Regions from separate parts of the Homo sapiens genome. Here region 2 is linked to region 1. A link means that fine-mapping ties the variant in region 1 to the expression of a gene that starts in the linked region. Tissue or cell type: whole blood. Region 1 holds a variant in brackets; the other region holds the start of a gene. Each region is shown on its reference strand, or each on the opposite one. Region 1 has its middle 43 kb from the start of PLAGL1. Region 2 holds the start of CERS2 (ceramide synthase 2).

What was found. PIP is the estimated chance that this variant, and not a neighbour inherited with it, causes the effect. A credible set is the group of variants that fine-mapping cannot tell apart.
Region 2: it holds the start of CERS2, and the variant in region 1 is the best candidate, but not a certain one, in a credible set for the expression of CERS2 in whole blood (TOPMed, PIP 0.70).

The regions. Positions count from the first base shown.
Region 1 is chr6:144,049,059-144,054,296 of GRCh38, forward strand. It overlaps a transcript of PLAGL1 not described here. Among named protein-coding and RNA genes, the nearest start is that of PLAGL1, 43 kb to the left of the region's middle. The variant C/T (reference allele first, on the strand shown) is at 1,985.
Region 2 is chr1:150,972,111-150,977,348 of GRCh38, forward strand. CERS2 (ceramide synthase 2) reads right to left here and starts at 2,725. Exons shown (of 11, transcript NM_022075.5): 1 at 2,509-2,725. It also overlaps a transcript of ANXA9 not described here. RefSeq lists enhancers at 943-1,874, 1,832-1,976, 4,875-5,238, cis regulatory regions at 1,904, 4,735-5,238 and silencers at 2,080-2,569, 2,590-3,029.

The DNA.
Region 1 (5,238 bases):
AAAGTTGCACAGATCTCTAGGGCAGGGGCAAAATGCCACCAGTCTCTTTGCTAAAGCATAGCAAATGTGACCTTTGCTCCAGTTCCCAAGACTTTCCTTATCTTCATCTGAGACCACCTCAGCCTGTACTTCATTGTCCACATCATTAACTGCATTTTGGTCAAAACCATTCAACAAGTCTCTAGAAAGTTCCAAACTTTCCCACAACTTCCTGTCCTCTTCTGGGCCCTCCAATCTGTTCCAACCTCTGCCTGTTACCCAGTTCCAAAGTTGCTTCCTCATTTTTAAGTATCTTTATAGCAATACCCCACTACCTTGGTATCAATTAACTGTGTTAGTCAGTTTTCACTTTGCTATAAAGAAATACCTCAGATGGGTAATTTATAAAGGAAAGAGATGTAATTGACTCACAGTTCTGCACGGCTAGGGAGGCATCAGGAAACTTACAATCATGGTGGAAAGCAAAGAGGAAGCAAGCTTGGACCTTCTCACATGGAAGCAGGGGAAGAGTGAGGAGTGAAGGGGAAAGAGCCTCTTATGAAACCATCAGATCTTGTGAGAACTCACTCACTATCATGAGAACAGCATGGGGAAAACTGGCCCCATGATCTAATTGCCTCCCACCAGGTCTCTCCCTAGACATGTAGGGATTATGGGGATTACAATTTCAAGATGAGATTTGGGTGGGGACACAAAGCCTAATTATGTCACTCTATTACTAGTCCCATTTTTCAAATAAAAAACTGAGACACATGGAGGTTTGATAACTGTGTGACATACTTAGAAGGTGGCTCCAAAGCCAAGGTTTTTATCCTTCGTGCTGCGTAGCTTCTGATCATGAGGGAGAGGATAAATTGAGTAAGCAGGGTCCAACAGTGCACAAGACAGGTCTGGACTAAGATCCTTCGAAGCTGGAGAAGTGGAGGGGAGGAAAGGTGCAGATGCGAAAAATGGCAGAAGGGGGAAAGGGTGAATGGGAGGGAAGCCATTCACAATTTAGAGCCTCGGCTTTTTGAATGAAGTAGGAGAGTAGTTATTTTTCATGAAAGCAAGTAAGGGTGCTTACTTTGAGTTTAACTCAAAATATTTATGTGTCTGGTGAGTTTTGAGGGAAATTGAGACCACCTAAGGGAACAAGAGATTCACATTGCCCAGAACGTACTCATTCCAGGACAATACACCCACTGTGTGACATGCTAGGGGCAACCTCCTGTGCTAATTATTGTTCTTTTATTTCCCCTTGAAATCGACTGCTGAACTCAACTAAGTGAAATATGTCCATAACACAATGCTGCCAGAAGGTCTTTGATACCAGCAACCAGGGCTTGCTCGGCTTTCCTGCCCAAATCCCTTCTCAGAGCATTTTTATCGCTCATATGTTATTCTCTTTTCTTCTGTCTGAGGAGAGAAAGATTCTTCTACACTCTTTTAAGGCTGTCTCTTCTCTATGTTTATGTCTCTATTATTACATTATAGGCTTATTCTAGGGAATAAATATCTTATTCCTGCCTTGCAAAGAATAAGCACATGATATTTATACACATCTCTGTGTCAGGTGCAGTGGCTCATGTCTATAATCCCAGCACTTTGGGAGGCCAAGGCAGGAGGATCACTTGAGGCCAGGAGTTTGAGACCAACCTGGGAAACATAGTGAGACCCTGTTTCTACAAAAAAAAATTTTTTTTTAAGTAAATCAGGTGTGGTGGCACATGCCTGTTGTCCCAGCTACTCAAGAGGCTGAGGTGGCAGGATCACTTGAGTCTGTGAGTTTCAGGCTGTAGTAAACTACAATTGTGCCACCACACTCCAACCTAGGTGACAAAGCAAGACCCTGTCTCAAAAACAAAACAAAGCCAAAAACCTTAGGGAACTGTATCTGTTACTCTTTTATTACCAATAATATCTTCAGGCAAAATCTGCTGACAAACATTTATAAATTAAATGTAAAAATAAAATCTTAAATCAGCTTTAAAATAAGTCAGTA[C/T]ATGATATGTAACAACTCTAAATCAGCTTTAACAGTTTGTAATATGTAACAACTTAAAATCTAGACACCTACAGACTATCAGATAATGTCTAGGAAATCACCTCAATTACGTACTTTCTCTAAGTTTTCTATATATCACACAATTAAATTACAATAAATTTCAGAAAACAATGAATCCACTCAATACAGGAAACCACAATAAGCAAAAGTGCAGGACACAGGGAAACCAATAACTGCAACATGTATGTGCTTAATGGAAAAAGATCCATTCAGGCATATATTTAGATGCCAAACAGCTTCTCCTAGCACTTTCCTCACACTAATTCTACTTTATTGCTTTGAATCCTTTTGGTAAACAACACCCACCATGCATGAGGCACACACATACAATCAAATAACAACTAAGGACAATCATTTACTCCTGTTTTTTTCACAAATGATATCTTATTGGATGCCCTTTAAACCAATATGTTTCAAATGTTTTTACCAAACCAACACTAAGAAAAACATTTCATGTTGCAACCAAGTTCAAACATATTGTATTAGTCCTCTTTCATGCTGCTGATAAAGACATATCATAACTATGATAGATAAGACTGGGAAGAAAGAGAGGTTTAATGGACTTACAGTTCCACATTGCTGGAGAGGCCTCACAATCATGGTAGAAAACGAGGAGGAGCAAGTCATGTCTTACATGAATGGTGGCAGGCAAGAGAGAGCTTGTGCAGGGGAACTCTCATTTTTAAAACCATCAGATCTCATGAGACTCATTCACTATCATGAGAATAGTGCAGGAAAGACCCTCCCCCATAATTTAATCACCTCCCACTGGGTTACTCCCACGACATGTGGGAATTGTGGGAGTTACAATTCAAGATGAAATTTGGGTGGGGACACAGCCAAACCATATCACATATATTCATGAATTACAGTTTAATCTAACAATATTTACCTTACCACTCATGATGCACTGTGAGATTTATTTTTATTTTTACTGGTTTCATTTTACCAAATTAAAACTTAAGAGTTTGAAAAATACTGCTCCAATTACTTTACTCAGATACTATTTTTAATGACATGATCCTAGGTTGCTATTCAGAAAAATAAATATTTGTCCTAAGATCAGAAAAGAAGGTAAGTGATCCTGACAGATAGTATATATGTCCTTCATTCAATATGGCAAGGAAAAGAGCACATGGCAAGGAAAAGACTACCACCAAAGAAGGAGCAATCAGTCAATCAATCAATCAATCAATCAACCAAGGCAGATAGAACATTTTTGCTGATATTCAATAAGGGTCCTTTAGAATTATGTGAGGCAGTGTGATACAAAGAATAGAGCACTGAATTTAAAATGTGGATACTTAGTTCAAGCCCCAGTTCTACCACTTTGGGCAAGACATTTTGTAGAGATCTAATTTTTCTCATCCATAATGAACATGGGGCAGGGACTCTATCTCCTGTCTAGCACTCTACTCCCAGAGCCTAAACAGTGCTTGACATCTAATAGATGTTGTTAAACAAATGAATGGATGAATATATATCTTGTTCATATGGTTGCAAACAGGATGTCAAACAAATGCTTGATTTTTAAAAATTCAGTCTGAAATAATTGGGGACTCAATATGCTGGCAGCTTCACACTATGCTGATTAAGCACTTTTCTCTTTCCACAACTACTAAACCAAAAAAAGAAAAAAAAATGTGGGGGAGGGGGTTGTGGAGGGACTGATTTTCTGTATTTTTCCTTTTCCAACAACTAGTTCTTATGAAAAGAAATTCTATCAACAATGTGTTTAAATTCTCCACATCCAGGATATATGCAACATTGGTGCCCTCTTAGAACAAAAATGTAAAAAATTGAACTACTCCTTGTTTCAACATTTAAGCCATTTAATTCTTTCTTGGTATCATGAACTGAGAAGACTGAAGGGGGTCACAGAAAAAAATTATACTCACAATACTATATTTTTTCAGGTTAGCACCAATACTTGTAAATGCTTTGATAAACAAGGATGAAATTATTTATTTTAACTGATGCTCAACCATATTGGGTCATCCTTATCAGCTACAACCACACATTGCCAAAATCAATCAATCAATCATTTTTTTTGAAATGGTCTCACTCTGTCGCCCAGGCTGGAGTGCAGTGGCGCAATTTTGGCTTACTGCAACCTCTGCCTCCCGGGTTCAAGCAATTCTCCTGCCTCAGTCTCCTGAGTACCTGGGATTACAGGCATGCACCATCATGCCGAGCTAATTTTTGTATTTTTAGTGGAGACAGGGTTTCACCATGTTAGCCAGGCTGGTCTGAAACTCCTGACCTCAGGTGATCAGCCACGATGGCCTCCCAAATTGCTGGTGTTACAGGCGTGAGCCACCACACCCGGCCTAATTAGTCATTAATTCTTGAGTAGTTCATTCAAGTATAACATCTTGCTACCACCTATGAGGGATACAAAAGGTCCCAGTGCTTGCCATCTTAACATGATTTATCATGAAACTATTCAATAACTGTGCAAAATACTATTTGATTAAATATGATGGACAGTACAGACAATAAGTCCCTACAGGACTTATTTGGATAAAAAGGAAAATACTACCTTCATAAAGAAACTTACCACCTAAAAGTTTAGGCTTCGGGGATGGCAAATACATGGAAAATGATCAGCTGTCTTCCTCATCCTCTAGTAACTATGTCAGGCCAGTTACTGATCACGGTATTCTTGCCCAGTGAACATAGTTATAACCTCGAGATCCTTATCAGCACATCCTTCTAGGCAGCTACAATAAAATATGATGAAACTTATTTGTCATCTCTGGGCTCAGCCTCTTTAAGAAGCTGCAGGAAAGTCTTTGATTATATTAATTATCACATGAATCCTGTCAAAGTACATACCAAGAAGAACACCATCAACTTCAAAATCCATCAGGAAAGGGATATTCATTTCTCTATATGGTCTAACAAATGATACTATTTAACTCTAGGTCTTAACTTACTTATGTCAAATGACAATTGTACCTATAAATCCAATAAAGTGCTTTATAATTATAAAGTCTCATTCTATAACATACCACATGCATGAAATTATAAAATATATGCTCACTTAACAAACAATACAAAAGTATATAAAGTAAAAACTGAAAGTTTACCAGCCCCTACAACAGTCCATTCTTCAGAGTTAGCCAAGATTAAGTTTAGTATACATCTTTCCAAACTTACTTTTTACTTATGCAAGAAAAACAATGTGTGTG
Region 2 (5,238 bases), not on the chromosome of region 1:
GACAGACACCTGGGCAGTGCAACTTCCTCATCCCCAAGATGAGATAGCGCCTGTCCTCTTCCACTCCAAGCAGGGAGAGTGGAAGACTTGGGAAATGCAGATTAATGGGGGCTTTTACACTGAGGTTGCAGGCTTCCCATGACCACAGCCCTCCCTGGTGGTCCTGCACCTCCATTAGCAGAGAGGCACTACCCCCATCTCCCCAGCAGGGAGGCCCCAGATTCAGCAGGGTCAGGACCTCTGACTCAACATGAAGAGAGGGGAGGACAGCTGGGGCCTGGCCGGCCTCACTTACACATCCCCACAGAACCAAAGAGTTGGGTCCCTGTGGCAGTACTGGGGAGGCCTCTTAGCACCAGCACACAGATCCAAGCAAGACCCCATAAACAAGAGGCTGGGGCAAGAAAAGCTGAAGTGTACACACGGTAAGGAGACAACCCTGTTTTTCCAGGCCCCCTGGGCCTTCAGGGCAGTTACTTGACTTCTTATGGAGAAAATCACATCTAGAAACACTTTTCCACCCAGACTTCACTCCCCCATACACATGAAGAGACATGGTATCTGTCTACGCTCTCTCTCACACACACCTGCCTTGGAGGCACAGATGCCACTTTCTGAGGCACAGGCTGGAGAGGGGCCAGAAGAGCAGGGATTTAACTGGCATTAGATTAGCAGGAACTTGAGCAGGACTCTGTCCAGCCCCAACCTTTGCCCCAACTCTGACTGACACCCCCACAAGACCCCTCTAGGTGGATGAAAGGAGCAGAGGATCCCCATGGGAGTTTGTAGATCCAAACGGCTGAGAAGGCAGAAGTTTCGGCCTGAGAGGAAGGAATTCTCTCAGACTCCAGGTGGTCAGTCTGACTGGCTCTCATAGTTTGGAAGAATAACTGAGGAAAATAGAAAGGAGTTGTTGACAAGGGAGGAGTGACAAAGGTCCCACCGGCTCCCTGCTTCCACTGAAGAAGTCCTGAATAGTCTTCCTTGTTGAAAACTTTCAGGCAACAGAAGCAGGTCATGTACTAGAAGTCTACAAGCCATGGATGGAGCCAATGAGAGGTGTGTTATCCCTCCAGGCTGCAGGATGGGCCTCAAAATAAGCCAGATTGTAAAAAAGAGGTGGGTGAGAGGCAGTCAGAACAGTAGTCCTCAGCCTCATCTGGCCTACAGCTTGTCTGCAAAGTCCCACCAAAGGCCTCCACGGACCAAAACACTGCATGAGACTATGGCCCCAGGGGCAGGGAGACGCCGGTGGGTTTGAGAGACAGCTGGGGCGGTGTTGAAGGACACAGTGAGGGATCAGCCAGCCTATGGCCAGTGACAGGGGTAAAAGGAGGCCCTTCCTCCCAGGGGAAAATCTGGCCAGAGGCCCCAGTGAGGGAAGTGGGGGACCAGGGGAGAAAAGGATCCCTCTCTGGAACAGACTGTGCAGATCACGGTATGGTCAGCGCCAGGTCCTCAGGGACAGGACTGCAGGCAAGTCCTTACCCTTAGGAGCCCCTTTACATGTGCAGCCACTCACACCCCGGTGCGGTCATCCCGACTCCGGTATGCGGCAGCAACCGCCACCCACCCCTGCCCCAGCACAGATATGGGGGTGACTGCCTGCTGGAGGCCTGCTCGGACTCACTTCTCCAGGAACAGGGGCTCACTGCATTCGCCACGATCCTCAGAACCCCCTGAACCTGGGCCTGGCAACTCAGGTGACTGAAACCAGGTTTTGATGCCAGGAGCTAGGCTTAGGGAGGGAGAGACTCCAACTGCAGGCTAAAGATGAGTGCTCTACACCTGCAGTCAACCCACTTGCCACGGGCCTCTAGTGATTAACAAGCTACGGCCCAGAAAGCCAGTTCCACCAGGAGCTCCCTTGCCAGCCATCCACACCTCATAACGGTATGCCTTAGCCCTACCGGGCCGGGGCAGGCGCTCCGGGCCGCTCCTTCCTGTTTCCCGTTAAGCACATGGAAGCTCTGACCTCGCCTGCGAGGTGGGCACGGTGGGCCGGTAGGAAGAAAACGGGGCAGGGCCCTCCCCTCTCCTCCCACCCAAGCCACAGGACGCGTCCAGGCCAGGGCAACCCCGCGGGCCGCTGCCAGGGTGGAGGCTCTCGCGCCAATGGTCACCAAGCTCCTCCACTCCCCAACAAAGGGAAGCCCACGGCTCGGCCCCGTCGCCCGCAGCCCCCGCGTCCCCACCTTCCGCCCTACCTGTTGCCCGGGAAAGCTTCTCCGGCTCAGGGCGGCGCTGCCGCGGACACCGCGGCGCCAGGCCCGCCGGCCCCGGCCGCTCCCTTGAGGCGCTGCGCCCGCCTTACCCGGCGGCCGCCGCCATGAGCGCCCGCAGCGCCCCCCGCCAGCGCCGCCTCCCTCCTCGCCCCGGCCCCGCGGCCTTCCCAGCCCGACCCCTCCGCGGCCCCGCGACAAAGCGGCACCCGGGGCTCCCAACTTTTCCGCAGCCCCTTCCCACCCCCGCGCGGGGCTCGGGCGCCGGGCGGGGGCCCCGACTCACCCGGCGGCAGCGTTGGCGGGGCCGGGGCCGCTGCTCCGTGTACTCCGTCTGCTCGGGTGGTTGCTCCGAGGCCCCGAGGCCTGGCTCCCCGCGCCTCTCCTCCCTCTTCCGCCCGCCCGCCGGCCCGCGCCCGCCCTCGCCCTCCCTCCTCCGCCAGCCGCCGGCGCCGCCGCCGCCGCCCGCCGAGCCCAGTCGAGCTGAGCCCGAGCCCAGCCGGGAAAAAAAGGCCGCGAGCAGCCCAAGGGCCGGGAGGCTGGGCGTGACGGGAGGGGAGGGCGGGGCGGGCCTCTGCGCTGCGGCTGCCCCTTCGCCCCGGCGCGGGAGGCCAGACCCCAACCCTCCGCTCCCGGCCCCACAGCCGCGTCCACGCCCGTCACCTTGCGCTAGAGAAACCGCCGACCTGGGGAGGCGGGTGCGGGCTCCTTCCGCCACTTCGGTCTCTTTTCGGGGTGGGAGGTCTCCCACTGGGACCGACACAGACGCACTGGATGCCGCGGGGTCCCGGGCTCCGAGCGGCGGTGTCCCTGTCCCCTTACTCCTACCCACCCCCACCCACCCCCAACTGCTGTGCGGCCCCCGGTCCCCGCCAGGGTGGGCACATTCCCACTTCCAGCCCCACGGGGCGCGGGCGGAGGAGGGTGCAGCCCGGGGATCCTGCCCAAGTGCCTCGCGCCGAAGCTGAAAACCTCTCCAGGGCAGACCGAAGCAGCCGACCCTCGAGACCCAGTCGGAGCCTGCGATCACTCGGGCGACCCTCGCCTACCCCGCCGTAAAAGCCGCGGCCTTTCCACCTAGGTGCTACGGGACCTACCCCCGTGGCAAGGAAGAGCAAACCCGAACTTGCGCACACCCGGCGGCCCTGTCTGAAAGAGCCACCCCAACTTTTGTTTTGTAAAATGTATGAGTTTTCAAATGACACCACGTTTATCCGTATTCGATTTCGTGTTAAAAAGTGTTTTCCGGCCGGGCGCGGTGGCTCACGCCTGTAATCCCAGCACTTTGGGAGGCCGAGGCGGGCAGATCACCTGAGGTCAGGCGTTCGAGACCACCCTGGCCAACATGGTTAAACCCTGTCTCTACTAAAAATACAAAAATTAGCCGGGCACGGTGGCTCGCGCTTGTAATCCCAGCTACTCGGGAGGCTGAGCCACGAGAATCGCTTGAACCCTGGAGGTGGAGTTTGCAGTGAGCCGAGATCTCGCCACTGCACTCCAGCCTGGGCGACAGAGTGAGACTCCGTCTCAGGAAAAAAAAAAAAAAAGTGTTCTCCCCTTGGCCTGGCGCCGTGGCTTATGCCTGTAATCTCAGCACTTTGGGTGGCCGAGGTGGGCAGATCACTTGAGGTCAGAGTTCAAGACCAGCCTGGTCAACATAGCGAGACCCCCAACTCCTTTATAAATTTAAAAAAAAAAAGTTTTCCCCTTGAGTCGTGTGGTAAAATTACTGTTTCAGAAGTAATTACTGTTGGAAGATGCAACATGGTTTTCCTAGAAAGCTGGTCTTAACTCCTAACGTGAACGAGTGGTGACTAAGATGTATTTGAGGGCTCCTATACAGGGAGAGCTGCAGCTTACTCCATGGAGAGGTACTTTTGTCAAATTTCTCACCTAGATGAAGTATTGCCTTTTTTATGCTGTTGCAATCAGAGCCTCTGACAGTAGCTTGTTTCCCCGTTTATCTGGTCAAGTACTCGTAGGAAGGAGTGCAACCCCCACTAATCCAGTTGGAGGGCCCATCCCTCATCTCAGGCCCTTTCTGGAGGGTAAGGAGGTAGAGGCTGTCCGACCCAACTGTTTGTTCTGCCTCTCTTTTCAGGGGGACCCGCAGCCCTGACACACCATGGGAAAGATGAGAGTGGTGGCCCCTAACCAGCTCCCAGGGTTTCTCTAGGCTTTTCTAAGCCCCAGGCCTGCCTGATCTCCCAGTTTCCAGCAACCCCTCCAGCTGTGTTTTTCTCCTCCCTCCCTTATTAGCATATCTTCCATTGTATCTTTCTTTCCTTTCTTTTTTTTTTTTTTCCTTTGGAGAGGAGGTCTCACTCTGTCACTGCAGCCTCGACCTTCCAGGCTCAAGCTATCCTCCACCTCAGCCTCCCAAGTAGCAGGGACCACAGGCGACGCCACCATGCCCGGCTAATTTTTGTATTTTTGAGATTTCACCATGTCGCTCACGCTGGTCGTGAACTCCTGAGCTCAAACCATCCACCCGCCTTGGCCTTTCAAAGTGCTGGGATTACAAGCATGAGCCACCTTGCATCCCAATTGTCTCTTTCTACCCCCTTGGAACTCTCCTCCTTCAGCCTTCTAATTCCAAAGTTCCCTCTTCCTTTCTTCAGTGCTCTCCCCAGAGTCCTTATCTGCTACACACCTACACACCTTTTTTCCAGCATAGTTCCAGGGCTCTTTGGGCCGCAGCTCACCTTCGGGTCTCTAACACTCTCCACACCTCCGTCCTATTCATCTTCCTTCTTTTAGTTCTGAATCCCTTTCTTGTGGTTTTCCTAAGTGCCAGGCTTTCCTGTAGTCCCTACCAGACTTTTCAAATGCTTCCTCAGGAGAACTGAAGACTGGTTAACTTTTTTTTCTTTTTTTTAAGATAGCAGTGGGGAGGGGAAGTTCTGGGGCAGAAGTTGGATAACCAGGGCCTGAGAAATAAAGATAAGAGGGTATATTCCTCCCCCAGGAGACAAAAGAGAAGGTGGATGGAGAAGGGGAAACTGGGCCTCAGCCA